Regions from separate parts of the Homo sapiens genome. Here region 2 is linked to region 1. The links come from fine-mapping of genetic effects on gene expression. A gene starts in region 1. The other region holds a variant in brackets. All regions are shown on one strand. Distances are between the middles of the regions.

Region 1 (9,023 bases):
GGAAATGCCTGGGATATGATTGAATATTGTAGAGAGGTCAGGCAAGAGAGTGCAAGTGGCCTGGGAAAGAAGGGGCTGGGGAAATATAGAAAAGAAGAGGGAATAGAAAAAATAAAAGAGAAGAAAAAGCAGTAAGGGAGGAGATTTCCTGGACCTTTAAGGAGGGCTCTTCACCAGGAGCCTGGAGGAGGACTTAGGAAGGACTTCTTAGAACTGACATACTTGTGCCTCACCCTCGGGCCCATGTGTATAGATACCTGGTACCTCTCGAATAGAGTCACCCCCTTGCCTGCTGGAAAACAATGCAGCACAGTCCACCCCATAGGATCCCTGGTCCTCAAGGGCCAAGGGAGATGAAGACCTCACCCAGGGCCCCAGCTCCAACTCCTCCCAACCCAGCCTAGCTGGCAAAGCAATGGAGGCTGGGCTGCCCGTCCCACGCACCCGGTACCATACCTGGCCTTGCTGCCATCACCCATGATATGGAGGCTGCAGCTGCATTGAGAGGGGCAGAAGCCCCGGGCCTGGGGGGGCCACGCAAGGGCCAAGAGCCAGAGCATGCCTAATGCCACCCTCATGGCTCCTGGCTCCTCTCTGGCCCAGGCAGGGGCCTGTCCCTGGACCGCTCCGTCCCACCGGCCCAGCAAGCTCAGCAGCTGCCCACTTGCTCGCCAGCCCCTTACACCCCCTCCTGAGGCCATCGGATAAACATGGACAGACTGGGGATTAGGGAGGGGAGTCCCAGCCGCAGCACTCAGAGGCTTATTGCTTTCTGAATCACTCAGTCCTGAGGGTAGGGGCGGGGGACCCCCTTCCATAGCAATATCCACAGGCCCAGAGAGGCCAGGGCAGGGCACAGCAAAGCAAGACAAGTAGGCAGCTTTCCAGAGGCGAGCAGCCATGGGACTGTCATCTGCAAAGCATCCCATCCCAACAAGGCCACGGACAACACAGACCCCACTGGAGTGCCAGGGAAGATGGAGAAAGAACCCCCGCCTCAGTAAGGGCCTTTGGAAATTCTTTCCTGTGACACTGTCTCATAGCAAAAAAGCAGTGAAATGAAGCAACTCTTCCTGATGGTGCTAAAGGCATTGGAAGGAGGCTAAGCTCTGGACCCAGGCTTCCTGGGGTCAAATCCCAGCTGCTCCATTAAGGGGCTGTGACCTTGGGTGAGTCACATTATCTCTTGGCCTCTGTGTCCTTATCTGACAAAGAGAAATAAAGTTACTTCATGCAGGGTGTTTGTGAAAATCAAACTCAAATTCCAAGGCCTTGACAGCCTGTGGGAACAGAAGCTCTCTCACAAGTTGTAAGTGCCCAGTTTCACTGGTACTTATAAGACCCTACTTACAGAAGAACTGGACAGATTCAGATATTTTGGGGAGACATCAGAGGTGTCTCTCATGAGCCCACAAACTGTCCCAGGCTGCCAGGCAAACAGCTGCCTGCCTTGAGTGCCCCATGGATATGGACTCAACACACTACTATTTCAGCTGAGCCCTTCTGGGCATTGCTACGAATGCCAAAGGTGGAGATGTCTCCACATAAGGGACAAGGGCACCCCTCTCCTCAAGGTGCCCTACTCCAAGGAGGGCCCCAGAGAGGTAGCTCAGAGAGGTCTTAGAGAAGGCACTTTCAGGTTTTTTTGGAGACAGGACCCCAACCTCTAATAAGGGCCTTTGGAAATTCTCCATCCATAAAGCTTTGTTTTGCTTTATAGGGACAGGGTTGCTCTGTCACTCAGAGTGGAGTGCAATGGTGTAATCATAGCTCACTGTAGCCCCGAACTCCTGAGCTCAAGCCATCCTCCTGCCTCAGCCTCGCAAGTAGCTGGAACTGCAGGCAACCACCACCATGTTTGGCTATTTTTAAAAAATTATTTTTTGCAGTCAGGGTCTTGCCATGTTGCCCAGGATGGTCTCAAACTCCTGGCCTCAAGCGATCCTCCTACCTCAGTCTCCCAAAGTGCTGGGATTACAGGCCTGAGCCACTGCACCCAGACTAATTTCAATTTTTACTTATTCTCTCCTAACCCTATCTCGCCCCACCATATCTACTCAAGATGCCAGTGGGGACTGACCAGGGATGATTCCCAGCAGTAGACACTCAGTCGACTCATTCATTCATTCTTCACATTTGACCCTGAGGCATTGTTCTCTGGTCCAGCATGCCCTACCTATGTTGTTTGGCTTTTCTAGAAGGTTCCCCAGTCCTTCATGCCTGTGGCTCCAGGCAGGCCTAGACCAGTGAGGTATGACCTGCAAAGATATCTGGGGCCCCAGTGCACACATAAAATGCCTAGCTCGGAGCCAGGTCTGTTTCAACAATACTGGCTTCTCATTCTTTCCTTCCTTCCAATGCAGCCAGTAGGATTTTCTCAGTGCTTCCCAGCTATACTTCCACCTCCCCAAACCCAGCCGTCAGCTTGCCTGTTCCCACATCTCTGCTTCTTCCTCCTTGTGTCTTTTGCCCAAATGAACTTTACCCTTTAATCTTGGCCTTGCCCTGCTTTATCTCCTCTCATGAAGGCTTTTGTGATCTCGAAGGCATGAAAAAAGGACTGACATATGTATTAACCAACACCATAAGGTAGAAATTGAGACAGAAGGCCAGGCAGGGTGGCTCATGACTGTTATCCCAGCATTTTGGGAGTCCAAGGCCAGCAGATCACCTGAGGTCGGGAGTTCAAGACCAGCCTGACCAACATGGAGAAACCCTGTCTCTAATAAAAATACAAAATTAGCCGAGCATGGTGGCACATGCCTGTAATCCCAGCTACTCGGGAGGCTGAGGCAGGAGAATAGCTTGAACTGGGGAGGTAGAGGTTGCGTGAGCCGAGATTGCGCCATTGCACTCCAGCCTGGGCGACAGAGCGAGACTCCATCTCAAAAACAAACAAAAAAACAAAAAAGAAATTGAGAAAGAACAGGGAACGCTCTGGAGGGCGCAGCCATAAGCTCAGCCCTGCAGAGGGATTAGGCTTGGATGTAAGTGAGGACTCATGAGAGGAAAGGCCTGGGAAGTGGGCATTCCTGGAACAGAGTGGGTTGCTCTACCAGGTGAGTCAGAAGATGCCATTGAAAAATGCCTGAGCCTGAGGAATAGGAGATCGGCTTTTGTTCCAGCTCCATCCATAAATTACTGCATGGCCTCAGGCAGATTCTTAACTGTTTTTAGCCACAGTTTCCTCATCTAAAATGGAAAGGATAATGGTATCTAACTCATGGAGTTGTTGTAGGACTCATCAGAAGATCCCCTAGCACAGGGCCTGACCTCACTCAATATTAGCTATGTTGCTGATAGTGCTCTGGAGCTTGGTTTCTTTATCTGAAAATGAACTAAGTTGTCCTAGATCAGTATTTCCTGGTGTAAATTTTATCATGAGCCAGAGCATAACAGTGCATAAAGAGCCAGTGTATCAAGAAGTCATTTGTAGCAGCCAAAGCTCTTAGTGGGGCCGGCAAGGCTGGGCGGGTTCGGGGTCGGAGACTGACAAGACGGCAGGCAGCCCCTCTGTTCTAAGACAGTGTCCTAGGACATTTTTTATGCTCAGGTGCTCTATGGGAGACAGGAAATGCAGCCCTGAGGTTTATATTCGTGATATCTAACCAGGACTTATATAAAGGCCACAGACAAAAGACATTGACATTGCAGAAAAGTAAACGGAAGAGTCCAGTGGTCCCACTCCAAGGCGCATAACTAGTTAGTGGCAGATTCAGAACCAGAACCCCAACCCCATTTTCTGGTCCCAGATGGGGTTCTTCCTCTGACAGCAGGCGACTTCCCAAGCCTCATCCTTTCCCCAGCGCTTTGGAGTATACTCATGTGAGCCTGAGGACACACACACAGGCACCAGGCTTGTTGGGAACAGCTGCGGCTCAAATCCCTCCTCCTGCTCCCCTCCCCTGGTTATGCAACTCTTTTCCAATTAGGCTCTCAGCCACACACCATTTGGATTCCCCGACCTTAATCCTGTGCAATGGGGCTGAAATGAATGAGACAGGGCTCCATTCTGGCTTCACAAAGGCTGCATTGTCCAACTCGTGAATGGGTTCCTTCTGCTTGGGCCAAGAGGACCATTTGCAGCGGGGAGGCATCCAGAAACAGCCCAAGGTCCAACATAATAACCTGCATGTGCCTCCACGCACATGGGATGGCCCTTTAAAAGGGAGGGCCTGGCTGTGGGAAGCCAGAGACAGCTGGGCCACTGGCAGTGAGGGAGAGTGAGGATGGCAGAGACCAGTGCCCTGCCCACTGGCTTCGGGGAGCTCGAGGTGCTGGCTGTGGGGATGGTGCTACTGGTGGAAGGTGAGCCAGGCAGAACCTGGGGTGCAGCGGGGGCCCAGTGGGTTCTGAGGACCCAGGCCACCAGTGTGGAGCTGGCAAGGAGAGGAGAGGTCCCCAAACCCAGCTGGGTGTCCGGTCCCATTGGCTGCCTTCCCCTCTGTGCCCGGACTCGGGGGGTGTTCTGACAATTGAACCTGTGAGGTGCAGCACACTGCCCGCTGGGAGCAGAGAGGAAGCCAGGCAAGGGTCAGGGAGGGAGGGACTTTGAAAGGGGACATCTGCCCAGGAGATGATCAAGAGCCAGGCTTTAGGACTTTTCATGTCCCTCCAGCCGGGAGAAAATTTAATCCACTCCTTGGAAATCCTGCTGAGAATCCCACATAAGATCAGTCCCCCAAAAGGCTCTGGGGACAGACAGCTCTGCCTCCTGCTCTTGTGTGGCTGGAACCAAGTCCCTTCAGCTCTCTGCCCTCAATGCCTTGACATTCCGAATGGGTGGTTGTAAAGATTAAATGGGATAATGGGTATAAAGTGCTAGCCTAAATAGACTCTAGGGTATTTAAGTTCATTCACTCCCATCCTCTCCAGCCCCACCACTATTTTCACTGTGTCTACTCCTATGAGCCCAAGCACTTCACCTCTGGAGGCAACCTGGGTCTGCGAGGTACCTACCTCAACCTAGAATCCCTAAGATGCTCGCTGAGGCCAGAGCTAGAGACAGTGTCAATCCTGAATCTGGGCCAGCCCAAGCTAAATTGATGGAGAACGCAGCTTTGGTTCAAAGCAGACCCAGAGAAATCATCAGCACGTTTTCTCACCTAATGAGAACTGACAATGGAGAGGAAGTGACAGTCATTAGATTGGTCCTGAAGGCTCTGGACACGACTGTCTGGTGGCCCCAGCCCGTGTCTCCCTTTCCTGAGAACCCTACAATCTAGCATCCTTCCAGGTCCTCAAACATGCCATAAAATTTTACCACTTTATTTTTTGGAAGGGGTTTAAATTTACATTTTTATTTCATGTTTAATGACTAGAAATGTCATTATATACACAATGCTTTGGTTTTTATTTTATTTAAAATATGTTTTAAATTTCAATAGCTTTGGGGATACAAGTGATTTTTGTTTACATAGATGAATTACATCGTGGCAAATGCTAGGACTTTAGTGCACTCATCACCCAAGTAGCGTACATTGTGCCTCATTTGTAGGTTTTTTTAATCCCACTCCCTCTCCCACCCTTCCCCTTCTGAGTCTCCAGAGTCCATTGTGTCCTCTGAATGCCTTTGCGTACTCACGGTTTAGCTCCCACTTGTAACTGAGAACAAACAGCATTTGGTTTTCCATTCCTGAGTTACTTCACTTACAATAATGGCCTCCAGCTCCATCCAAATTGCTGTAATAAGACATTATTTCATTCCTTTTTACAGCTATTATTCCATGATGTATATATACTACATTTTCTTTATCCATTCATTGGTCAGTGGGCACTTACATTGATTTCGTATCTTTGCAATTGTGAATTGTGCCTCGGTAAGCATAGATGTGCATGTGTGTTTTTGGCTGGATTAAATGGCAGATCTACTTTTAGTTATTTAAGGAATCTCTATACTGTTTTCCATAGAGGTTGTATTAATTTACATATTCCCACCAGCAGTGCATAAGCATTCCCTTTTTACCACATCCATGGCATTGATCTATTGTTTTTTGACTTTTTAATGATGGTCATTCTTATAGGAGTAAGGTGGTATCTCATTGTACCATAGCATGTCTTTGCACATGCTATTCCCTCCTGGAATGCTCTTCCATGCACTGTCCTGCAGGTAAGTGCTTCTCATAGTTTTGAAGGCAGGATTTTTTCCTGTTCCTCACTTTAGATAGGGGAAGCTGAGGTTCAGAGAGCTTAAGGAGCAGCAAGCGAGGCAACCAAGCCAAAATTCAAGGTCGGGTCTCTCTGTTGCCAGAGTACGCCCCCTTCATGTTCACTTCCATGCCTGGCGTCCTGGGCAGCTCCCAGCTCTAACATCGACTCTTCTCCTTGGAGCCTCTCTGACTTTGCTCTACAGTCCTTGGAGAAGGCATTTTGAAATCCAAAAGGCCTGAATTCAAGTTCCAGCTCCACCGCTTACTAGCTGTGTACTTAGGGCAAGTTAGCTAGTGTCTCTGAGCCTCAGTTTCCCAGCTATAAATGGAGAAGAGAGTATCCAAGTAAAGATTGAATGAGATGACTCATATAAAGTGCTTATCCTGGTGCCTGGTGTGTGCTAAGTGCCTGGCAGCTGTCAGTGATTATGACTGTTATAGCATGAAGCATGCTACCCTATATTGATTGTCTTCCTTGTCTGTCCAGGAGGTTGCTGATGTTCCATCCACCCCACACACACTGTTCTGACCCCAGCTGGGCCTCAGCAGCCCCAATGCCAGCCCCCACCCTTCCTTTCAGCTCTCTCCGGTCTCAGCCTCAATACCCTGACCATCTTCTCTTTCTGCAAGACCCCGGAGCTGCGGACTCCCTGCCACCTACTGGTGCTGAGCTTGGCTCTTGCGGACAGTGGGATCAGCCTGAATGCCCTCGTTGCAGCCACATCCAGCCTTCTCCGGTACCAGCCCCCTCCCCAGTCCACAGGCTCTGGGGTCCTGCCTGGGGCCTGACCCCTGGGCCCTGGGCAGCCAGGCCAAGGGCATTTTTACTACTTACAGAAAATTGGCCAAGGGCAGAGGGTGGGCAGGCTAAAATGGGCTGAATTCCAGATTGATTCTGAAGAACGACAGCTGATTTCTGGAAGACAGGGGTTGCTGAAACCTGATGAAAGAGATGGTAGGCTGTAGAGATCAATGGTGTGGGTTCTGTAACCAAGCAACCTAGGTTTGCATTCTGGCTTCAGCATTTCTAGTTCTGGGCTTCTTCCATAAATCGGATATTATTTCCTAACTCATATAGGTGGTTGGAAGTATTTACTTCTATTATGTGTAAATAACTTAAAATAATGCTTGATACCTAGGACTCTACGTAAGTGTTTGTGAACACAAATGGGGGCGTTATCACCACTACTGCACCCGTATGTATCTGGGCTCCTGGAGTGGAGGGACACCGATGCAGTGTGGAGAGGATAAGAGGCAGGGAGGGGCAGTCATAACTAGCTAGTGTCTAATACCTCCTTATACAAAAACCAGGGTCTTCCATCACAGCTTCAGAAGGTGTTTATAAAATTGTTTTCTGAAGCAGACTGGACATTCTCATTCTGGTTTTGGACACTACAGACGGAGGCTGGAGCCCCCCCGGATGTGCATGCTCAGTGCTGACCAGCCTGGGGGGTCTGCATCAGTGAGAACTCTTCCTCCCACAGAGAATTGAAGTTTCCACCTTTGCTTGCCCTTTTAGGCTGGGGAGGCCTGGGATCTCCCCTCTGACTTTGCCTTCATCTTCTGTGTGACCTTGGCTTCAGTATCTTTGCCTCTTTGAATGTCAGTTTCCCCACCTATCAAATACAGGCATGAGCTCTCCTGTGACAGAGGGATCTGATCACGCAGAGAGAGCCTATGGCCCAACCATGGTGCAGTCAAAGTCACCCAGCCTGGAGAGTGTGCATTGGGCTCCACCCCTTCAGCCCAGTTACTTGAGCTCCAACGCCTCATAGGAAAGACACCAATATTAAGGCCCTCTTCAGAGAAGAAGGGCAGCATTCAGGAACACACACTCCAAGCTGTACTTGGCAGGTGTGGGAGGTGGAAAGGATCGGAGGAGAGGTCACTGGTGCCCAGTGTCTCCCACAGGCGCTGGCCCTACGGCTCGGACGGCTGCCAGGCTCACGGCTTCCAGGGCTTTGTGACAGCGTTGGCCAGCATCTGCAGCAGTGCAGCCATCGCATGGGGGCGTTATCACCACTACTGCACCCGTATGTATCTGGGCTCCTGGAGTGGAGGGACACCGATGCAGTGTGGAGAGGATAAGAGGCAGGGAGGGGCAGTCATAACTAGCTACTGCTCCGTGTTTCCCAGTACAGGGAAGTGTGGGTAGGTGTGAGTGTGCATGCATAGGCACTCATTTCAGGAAAGGAGGGAGGGTGGGAGAGTGTGCAGGAGAGCTGTTGGGCCTCTCTTGCCATTACCGCAACCTTGGGCAAGTCAGGGATCCTCTCTGAACCTTAGTCTCCTCCTCTGCGAAATGATTTTCTTTTTCTTTTTGAGACGGAATCGCTCTATTGCCCAGGCTGGAGTGCAGTGGTGTGACCTCGGCTCACTGCAACCTCGGCCTTCTGGTTTCAAGTGATTCTTTTGCCTCAGCCTCCTGAGTAGCTGGGACTACAGGCATGTGCCACCACACCTGGCTAATTTTTGTATTTTTAGTAGAGATGGGGTTTCACCATATTGGCTAGGCTGGTCTTGAACTCCTGACCTCGTGATCTACCCACCTCAGCCTCCCAAAGTGCTGGGATTACAGGCGTGAGCCACCGTACCCGGCTGAGATGATTTTAATAACCAATCTCAGTTTTATTTTGAAAATGAAATGAGATCAGGGATACAGAAAATGCCCTTGCAGACAGGCACTACTCTGCAGACAGGCGCAGAGAGGCTGTGTGTATGTGTGTGTAGCTGGGCATGTGCCCTGGCACCCCACACTTCCATGAGGCTTCATGAAAACTGTCCAGCTCTAGATTTCACAAGCTGCACTGTCAAATACCATCTTCATAATTGGCCATATCAGTGTACAAACTGCTCCATTTTTCCTTAATTTTT
Region 2 (9,728 bases), 160 kb before region 1:
GCTTCAAATTCCCCCAAGTGTCCTTATTGGTGTCTCCCCTCTTGACTTTAGGCTTCCCTAAGTACTCCTCCTTAGATAGAGTATATACCTTGCAGTTTCTTGGCTGCAATCTGCTGTTATTATACTGGAGCCCTGTTGGTGTGGTGGTAAGATGAATGGAAGAAGTGTCCTATAGTCTGATTAAATCTCAATATTTTAGTGGACCTGTGACTCAGTGCTGTGACCTTCACAAGAGTTTCATCACAATATAGCTTTTTTTCTCCCTGCCTTCCTTGGCTGTGTAATTTATAGTCTATTTTCTTAAAGCCCTCACATCTGTTGTCTATGTTTTTCCCCTGTCCGGTGAGACAGGAAGGCTAGAGACGGTTGAAGAAAAAGGAATCTGTCTCTTCTTGGTGCAACAATTTCCCGGCAAAATTTTTATCCCTGGAGAGTAGGTATTCATTATGAAGACTATGTGCATATTTCACAATGATTACTCTCTCCTTGCCAGAGTTACAAAAAGATTTTTCTGATATTCATCATGAGAACCTAGTAAGGTTCTTGAAGCTAAAAACCCATGGAATTGTGGCAGTCACCCTAAGACTGCACTCCCCAGGAGTTACTCAACCTCACCCTCATGCTAATCCACACTCAACCTCCAGCAATTTCCCAACATAACACCAAAGTGCTATAGTTTATGACTCCAGAAGCTTCCATCTTAGGTAGGTAGCTGTTAACTGTGTCTCTTTGGAGGGACCTGTCTCCCCAGATTTCAGGGTGATGGTTTGCCCTGCAACCTCATTCCACAATAAGTCCAAGAAAAGTCATTAGTTTTCAATTTGACTAGGTTTTTATGGTTGTAAAAATGGAAGTGACAACTTCCAATTTCTTCACATATAGAAGCTGAAACCAGAAGTCCTTTCAGCATTAACCTAATTACAATGTTACATAAAGAAAGGCTTTTGATTAAAAAGAAAAAATAAATGTATAAGGCATTTCAAAACCAAAGATTCTCCAAGCCAGTGAAGCATCTTCCTCAGAACTTCTACTGGGAAACAGGAGTAGGAGCATGACAACCCAGGAGGCTGGGGGTGGTGTTTCTTCCCAGAACATCCACAAACTTCCTCTAGAAGAGCCTGATTTCATTCCTAGCTCACTCTACCCCAAAGACAATCTTTTAACTATAATGATTACATTTGAAGAGATCTGGTTCCAGGCACAATGAGATATGGCTCCTGACACATTGAAATAATAAGCCATCACTGTGTTCCCCTTTATTTCAAAGATGGAATATTTACAATAAATATATAGCCATAATCTAGGAAGTATCAGTGTCAGGCAAACATTCTTGAATTTGAAAATTGAGACCAGGCACAGTGGCTCACACCTGTAATCCCAACACTTCGGGAGGCTGAGGCAGGAGGATCACCTGAGGCCTTGAAATCAAGACCAGCCTGGGCAACATAGTGAGACCCCATCTCTTCAAATAAAACTTTTTAATTCACTGGGCATTGTGGTGTAGTCCTAGCTACTCAGAAGTCTGAGGCAGAAGGATAACTTGAGCCTCAGAGTTTGAGGCTGCAGTGAGCTATGACTGTGTCACTGCACCCTGGCCTGAGTGACAGAGCAAGACCCTGTATCTAAAATAATAATAATAATAATTTTTAATTGGATGTCTCTACTCAGTTTCGCATAGTCTCAATATCAATATGTTATTATATAGAATATGTTCACTTCCTTGTCCATGGGTACATTTTTCAAATGTGTAAATGATCCCATCATCCATGTCCCAAAGTTATGTTAAAAATGTCTTACTCAAATATTAAACAAGACTAGAAACCAAAGAAATAAAAATTAAAAGAAGAATGATGTATTTTTTACCCACACTACATTCACAAAATAAGAAACTCCAGAAGAGCAGAGAGAACAGTGGAGCAGAAGCCAGGTGCCAGATGGCCTGGATTTGAATCAGCTCCACAGCTGACCACTGTGTCACCTTAGGAAAGTCACTTGGCCACTTATCTCTATGCTTTGGTGTTCTCACTGGAAAATGGGAATAATAGTAGCACCTGTGAATGTTGTAAAGATTAAATGAAAGAATCCATTAAAAGCTTAAGACAGTATCCAGCAGAGAGTGAACACTAAATAAGTTTTAATTTTTGCCAACTCCAGTGTTATTGTGCATATCTGAAATACTCCAGTGTGTCAGTTCCATACATGCCCAGCCTGTAACCTATTCACACTTCAAAACTTCTGGCTGAAATTGCCTAGTACTTCATACCCCTTTTGGCTTCTCCATCCCCATTGTCTCTTTAATCTTTTAAGAGTCGATAAGACTTTTGACCCAGAGATCGAAGCCATCCTGGCCAACACAGTGAAAGCCTGTCTCTACTAAAAAGACAAAAATTAGCCAGGCATGGTGGCATGCGCCTGTAGTCGCAGCTACTCGGGAGGCTGAGGCAAGAGAATCGCTTGAACCCGGGAGGCTGAAGTTGCAGTGAGCTGAGATCGCGCCACTGCACCCCAGCCTGGTGACAGAGCAAGAGTCCATCTCAAAAAAAAAACACTTTTGACCCATTTTATGACTTCCGATTTCCATTTGTTCCTCTACATGGAAGTCCACCTCTGGCTTGAATTTCACAACAGAATTTCATCTTCACTATGTTTGGTTTTCAGCAAATCCCTGGAAAGAACTCACAGTGCCCTTCCACCTCTTCCCACATGAGTAGACCCATTCCACTTGACCCTGCTCTGGCTTTTTGGATTCCCCATCTGTCACAGGGCACACACACCTCAAAATTGGGGTTCAGCCTGAGAGGCCATGGGGATTCTTGGCTTCATGCAGGAAGGAATTAATGAACCAGCCAATACAGTAAAGTAAAAGCAAGTTTATTAAGAAAGTAAAGAAATAGCCGGGGACAGTGGCTCACGCCTGTAATCCCAGCGCTTTGGGAGGCCGAGGTGGGTGGATCAAGAGGTCAGGAGTTTGAGACCAGCCTGGCCAATATGGTGAAACCCCATTTCTACTATAAATACAAAAATTACCCAGGCATGGTGGCGCGTGCCTGTAGTCCCAGCTACTCAGGAGGCTGAGGCAGGAGAATCGCTTGAACCCGGGAGGCGGAGGTTGCAGTGAGCCGAGATGGCGCCACTGCACTCTAGCCAGGGCAACGGAGTGAGATGCTGTCTCAAAGAAAAAAAAGAAATAAAAGGGTGGCTACTCCACAGGCAGAGCAGCCTGGGGGCTGCTGGTTGGCTATTTTTATTGTTATTTCTTGATCATATGCTAAACAGGGGGTGGATTATTCATGAGTCTTTTAGGAAAGAAGTAGGGAATTCCCAGAACTGAGGGTTTATCTCCATTTCAAACCATATAGGGTCACTTCTGGATGTTGCCATGGCACTTGTAAATCATTATGTTGCTGGTGGGAATTTCCTTTAGTATGCTAATACATCATAATTCATGTAAAATGAGCAGTGAGGACAACAAGAGGACACTTTTGTTGCCATCTTCATTTTGGCTGGCCTTTTTTTTTTTTTTTTTTTTTTTTTTGAGACAGGGTCTCACTCTGTCTCCCAGGCTGAAGTGCAGTAGCATGATCTTAGTTCACTGCAACCTCTGCCTCCTGGGTTCAAGCGATTCTCCCACCTCAGCCTCCCAAGTAGCTAGGACTATAGGTGCATGCCACCATGCCTGGCTAATTTTTGTATTTTTTGGTAGACACAGGGTTTCACCATGTTGGCCAGGCTGGTCTTGAACTCCTGACCTCAAGCCATCCGCCCTCCTCGGCCTCCCAAATTACTGGGATTACAGGCTTGAGACTGGACTTGGCTGGCTTCTTTACCACCTCCTGTTTTATCAGTGGGGTCTTTGTGACCCATATCTGGTGAAACCAGTCCTGCCAAACTCCTAGCTCACATTCACTAAGCAAACCTTAACTGGCGACATCATAATCAGTAAACTCTTTAAAAGGCAATATAAGATAGATAGATAGATAGATAGATAGATAGATAGATAGATAGATAGATAGATGATAGAGCTTAAATGTTCATCCTCTGTGACTCAGTAACCTTGCTTTCGAAATACATCTTGAGAATAATACAAAATATAGGTGAAAAAAATACAGCAGACATTTTTCAATATGGCTTTATTTATGGTAGTGATGAATTAGAAGCAAACTAAATGTTCTACAGTGGAGGAGTGCTTAATTAACTGAGGACACATCCATTCCATGGAATATTATACAGTCATAAAAAGAATAATTATAAAGACTACATTGCAACTCAGAATAATGCTCATGAGTCAGTGAAACAGCCAAGGATGCAACTGTATATTCCATACAATTATAATTATGTAAAAATATGGATGCATATAGAAAGAAACCAGGAAAAAAAAAAGGATAGTAACTGTGTTAATGGGATTAGGAGTGGTTTTCTTTCTTTTTTTTAACATTCTGTAATATTATTACGTTGTTTTCACAGTAAAAAGATGTCCATTATAAATGTAAATAAACAGTTACAAGCCCAAATTCAGCCTCCAGAATCTCTTGTACTTTTAGCTCAAATGAATTATACTCCAGGCTTAATTTCTCATGCTCAAAGGATGTTCTAGAGGCAAATATTTTTTTCTTTCCCAACAGAATAAAGGAAGTAATTTTGTTTACTAAGG[T/A]AAATGTGACCTCCATGTTGAGTAATGTTATACAGAGATAACACTCTTGCTCCTGCATGAGCAGGGCATGTGTTTTGAATTATTATTCCCTCGTGGGGATAGATTGGAGCTGAGCTATCTTCTCTCCTTTCACTTTGCTCTCCATTCAGCTGATAATGAGGCATTTGTAAGGCTGAGGTCTGAGGGGCACTTGGGAGCCTGATCAAGCAAAGCAAATTGACCCATCTACCGAGCACACTGAGACCTTCTCCAAATACTCAATCCAAACAAGCTAAATTGAGCTATAACAGCATTGAGATAAAATGCTTGTAGGTGATTCTGTGCCAACCAGGTGAAGCACATTCTTTGACAACATAATGACAAATTATGTAGAATACCATCAGATAACATTGTGCATGTTTTAATATAAAGCACTTAGAGAAATAAGGGGAATTATCTAGGCTAATGATAAAGAATAAATACTATACTTACTGCTATGGTTTGAATGTACCCTCCAAAACTCATGTTGAAATTTAATTGCCATTGTGATTGTATAAAGAAGTGAGACCATTAAGAGTTGATTAGGCAATGTGGGTAGAGCCTTCATGAATGGATTAACATCTGGAGTGTGTTTATCTCGAGAATGTGTTGATATCAAAGCCAACTGGGCTCTCTCTTGCTCTCTTGCCCTTTTACCTTCCACCATGGGATGGCGTCACAAAGGCCCTCTCCAGATGCAGCCCTTTGACTTTGAACTTCCCAGCCTCCAGAACTGTAAGAAATAATTTTTTAAAAATAAATTACCCAGTCTGTGGTGTTTTTTTATAGCAGCATAAAACAGACTAAGACACATACTTACCAAATAATATACTTACAACCATAGTTTATGAGCATGATGAGGGGAGAGGATGTAATAAGGACCTCCTAACTTGGGTCTTCTTCCATCCTACCTTCTTATCTCTTTCTCGGTTCCTTCAAACCCACTGATAGTATTGTCTATACACACAGTCTCTGTTTTACTTCCCATAGGACTCTATAGCTTGGTGCTGTCTGCATGATAGTGAGTTCTCACACAATCTGGTCATTTAAAAGTGTGTCACACCTCCCCCCTCACTCTTTCTCTCTTGCTCCTGCTTTGCCATGTGACATGCAAGCTCCCGTTTCACCTTCCACCATGAGTGAAATCTTCCTGAGGCCTCACCAAAAAACATGCTTGCTGTACAGCCCGCAGAACTGTGAGCCAATTTAACCTCTTTTTGTTATAAATTACCCAGTGTCAGGTATTCCTTTATAGTAACGCAAGTACAGACTAACATAAATTATAACCTCAATCTAATCATGAGAAAACTTCAGACAAACCCAAATTGAAGGACATGCTACAACATATCTGAACAGTACTTTTCAAACATTTGAAGGTGAAGAAAGCCATAAAAGGGCTGAAAAACTGTCACAGATTAGAGAATAGTATGGAGACCTGACAACTAAATTCAATCTGATATTCTGGCTTCGATCCTGGAAGAGAAAAAGAACCTTAGTGGGAAAACTGGTGAGAATCTGAATAAAGTCTGTAGTTTAGTTATTAGGTATTTAGGTATTATACCAATGTTAATTTTTTTGTTTTGTTCATTATAATGTGGTTATGTATAATGTTGAAATTAGAGGAAGCTGGGTAGATAGTATACTAATAGGGATTCTATACATTTTTGCATCTCTTATGTAAGTCTAAGTCTAAAGTTATTTCAAACTAAGACATTTTTAAAAATTAGTGTCCCCAATACCTATAGAATCAAATCCAATTTCCTTAGCATAACATATAATATCCTTCATGATCTGATCTACTTGTCCAGTGCTATCTTCTATCCCTTGCTCACAGTTGCAATGTTTTAGCTATGTTAAACTTCTTACCTTGTGTCTTACTCTGTTTCTGCTGTTATAACAAAATATATTATACTGGGTAATTTATGAACAACAGGAATTTAGTACTTACAATTCTGGGGGCCATGAAATCCAAGATCATGACACCAGCAGATCCAGCGTCTGGTGAGGGCCAGATCTCTGCCTCAAAGATGGCACCTTGGTGCTGTGTCCTCGAAGGGTGAAAGGTGGAAAGCAGCTCCCTTCAGCCTCTTTTGTAAGGGTACTAATCCCACTCATAAGGGCTGAGCCCTCATAACTTAATCACTTCCCAAAATGTGCCAGCTTTCAATACTATCACATTGGGTATTAGGTTCCAACATATGAATCTGGGGGGCACACTAACATTCAGAACATAGAAACTTATATCATTTTTTTAATAAACACACACACACATCTGTGCACGCACGCACACACACACACACACACGCGGCCCAAACACAACTGTCTAATTTTGTTGTTAATAGACATATGATGATATGCTAATTGCCCTGATTTGACCATAACACATAGTATAACGTATAGAAATATCATGCTGTCCCCCATAAGTGTATACAATTATTATGTAACAATTAGAAATAATAATAAAGGCAAAAAAAAAAAAAAAGAATAAAGGGGCTGGGTGCAGTGGCTCATGCCTGTAATCCCAGCACTTTGGGAGGCTGAGGTGGGTGGATCACCCGAAGTCAGCAGTTTGAGACCAACACGGCGAAACTCCATCTCTACTGAAAATACAAAAATTAGCTGGGCGTGGTGGCAGGTGCCTGTAATCCTAGCTACTCAGGAGGCTGAGGCATGAGGATCGCTTGAACCAGGAGGTGAAAATTGCAGTGAGCCAAGATCATGCCACTGCACTCCAGCCTGGGGGATAGAGCAAGACTCTGTCTCCAAAAAAAATAAAAAATTAAAAAATAAAGGAAAGATTGCCCACCCACCCCTAAAAAAAACTTTAAAAAATAGACACAGGACTAAAATCCAAGTTTCCTGATTCCAAAATCACTGGTCTTAATAGAATCAGTATAATCCCTATCCACTCATTGGGCTCCCAAGTTATGACATTTGACATGCCATAGCTAAGTCAAGGTAGTCAACTCAATTTTACCATCAGCTTAACTGAATCTTTTAACAGAAAATAACACCGTATAATGGTATATGTCACAAATGGAATGAAGGACTCTGAACTCATTCATCTCAAATGTAAACACTACAATCAATTCTCATAAAGCCAAAGATGGGCACATTTATGCACATTTACAAAGTACATAGTTCTGCTTGCATTGGTCCCATTACAATCCTGTCTAAATCCTGAAGTAAAAATGAATACCATAGTGAAGAAATTACTTGTGCATGTGAAAGAGGCTGGTCCAACTCCTTAATTGCAACAGGGATTTGATTCTTCTACTAGTAGTTAGGAAAGGTTGCATTAATATTCAGTAGTTAAAATGTGCGATTCTAAATTTTTTGTAATTTCCCATGAGAGAATAAATTTTTTCAAAAATATTCCCAGTAGGTGAATGACTTTAATACATGGTATCTGTGAAGATGGCAAATAAAATGACTCATAGACTTATAATTTGGCGAACAGTTGAAATAGCTTTTCTTTATAGACAAGTTTTAGCCCTGTTCATTTGAGGTTGATTGAGATTGGTTATTGTACATAAGTATGTTGACAATTCTTTGAATTCTATTGACTTTTGGATTCCCAAGTTCTTTCCTGAAACCTGTATAAGCTAATACTTTAGAAGAGACAGCAGAAAAAAAGAGAGTACAGATAGATGGACCCAGAGGTGACTGAAAGTTCTGAAATAAAAGTAATGAATGTTAAGGGAAATTCTCTATTTCTCAATCTCCTGAGCTCTCTCTCCTCTATTTCTTGCTTGTAGAAGTAAAGGATGCCCTCTATTTATTTATTTTTTAAGAAATAGCAAGTTGAAGTAGCAAAAAAGGAAACTTCTTACTCCAGCAAGGAAAAGAGCCACTAGAAGCCACAGGAACAGACAAGCAATCATAGCAAGACAGAACGAACTGCAATCCCATCACAGGCTTTTCTTCACGGGGTGCTGGAGAACACCGTGGAGCACTCTGCAATTCACAGGCAGGACCAGATTAGAAATTGCCAGGACAGACGGAGTCACAGCAACTACACACCGACTAGTGATGAGCTCTCCTCCAGATATTCTTATCACTCAGGTAAACAACCCTTTTCCTTGAAAGTGCCACATCTGAGGATTCTAACCTCTTGAAGTAGGAGCTACTTTTCTGTCTCCCAAAGTCTAGAGGAAGATTTGCAGATTTGGATGGGCACGGCTGGCAGTTCCCAGGCAGGCAAACATTCAAACAAACCAAAAAAAAAAAAAAAAAACAGAAATTGTGGGGGATGGACCAGGAGACGGTTTAGTTCTAAGCCCCTCTCTCAGGAGGAGCACAGAAGTGTACATGAAAAAGACAACTGTCCTGAAGGCAGTAAAATTACTTTATGGATACATATTTGTTGGGGGAACTTAAAGATAGATAAATGAAAGAAAGAGAGATAAACAGGGATTAGCCTACATTAATAGAATAAGTTCTAGAAGTATATATCCATTGTATTAACAGTGCTTATCTCTGACCACTGAAATTATAGGTTGTTTTGTTTTGTTTTTGCTTCTGTAGCACATTTTTAATTCTTACAAGTTTCTAGGATAATCCTGGTCACTCACTGGGAGCCCCAGCTATGGGCAGCATCCTTTCTAGGAAAAAGATTAAACCAAATGATGAGCTGCTTCCTCTGACCCTACAATATTGTAATAAAAAACTGAAGAGGGAACAACAACAACAACAAAAAATCCAACAGGATCTGGGCACTGTCCTAAAAAGAAGAATAAACTTCTGGTGCATATTTCTATAGAAATATTCATTTTATTTGACAATTACTACCCAAATATTTCCATATGGCCTTTATTATTTTAAATTTTTTAATTTTTAAAATGTTTTGTACTTTTTTTACTGACAAGGTCTCATTCTGTTGCCCAGGTCTCACTCTGCTGCCCACTACTGTTGCTACTGTAGTGCGATCTTAGCTCACTGTAACCTCAAAGTCCTGGGTTCAAGAGATCCTCCTGTGTCAGCCCCAAGTGGCTGGGAATACAGGCATGTGCCACCATGTTCACCTATTTTAAACATTCTTTTTTAAATGAGACTACAA

Alleles and levels. Alleles are on the strand shown, and positions count from the first base shown. SD is a standard deviation of normalised expression in the study named.
For the expression in visceral fat of the gene that starts at base 4,192 in region 1, A is the high allele of the variant in region 2 and T is the other (small effect, 0.34 SD a copy in GTEx).

Evidence for each region. PIP is the estimated chance that this variant, and not a neighbour inherited with it, causes the effect. A credible set is the group of variants that fine-mapping cannot tell apart.
Region 2: its variant is the best candidate, but not a certain one, in a credible set for the expression of RGR in visceral fat (GTEx, PIP 0.77).

The regions. Positions count from the first base shown.
Region 1 is chr10:84,240,862-84,249,884 of GRCh38, forward strand. It overlaps RGR (retinal G protein coupled receptor), which reads left to right and starts at 4,192. Exons shown (of 7, transcript NM_001012720.2): 1 at 4,192-4,308; 2 at 6,730-6,886; 3 at 8,061-8,182. The coding sequence starts at 4,230. It overlaps LRIT1 (leucine rich repeat, Ig-like and transmembrane domains 1), which reads right to left and starts at 685. Exons shown (of 4, transcript NM_015613.3): 1 at 457-685. The coding sequence starts at 578. RefSeq lists an enhancer at 4,338-4,837.
Region 2 is chr10:84,084,072-84,093,799 of GRCh38, forward strand. No RefSeq gene overlaps it. Among named protein-coding and RNA genes, the nearest start is that of GHITM, 51 kb to the right of the region's middle. The variant T/A (reference allele first, on the strand shown) is at 4,652.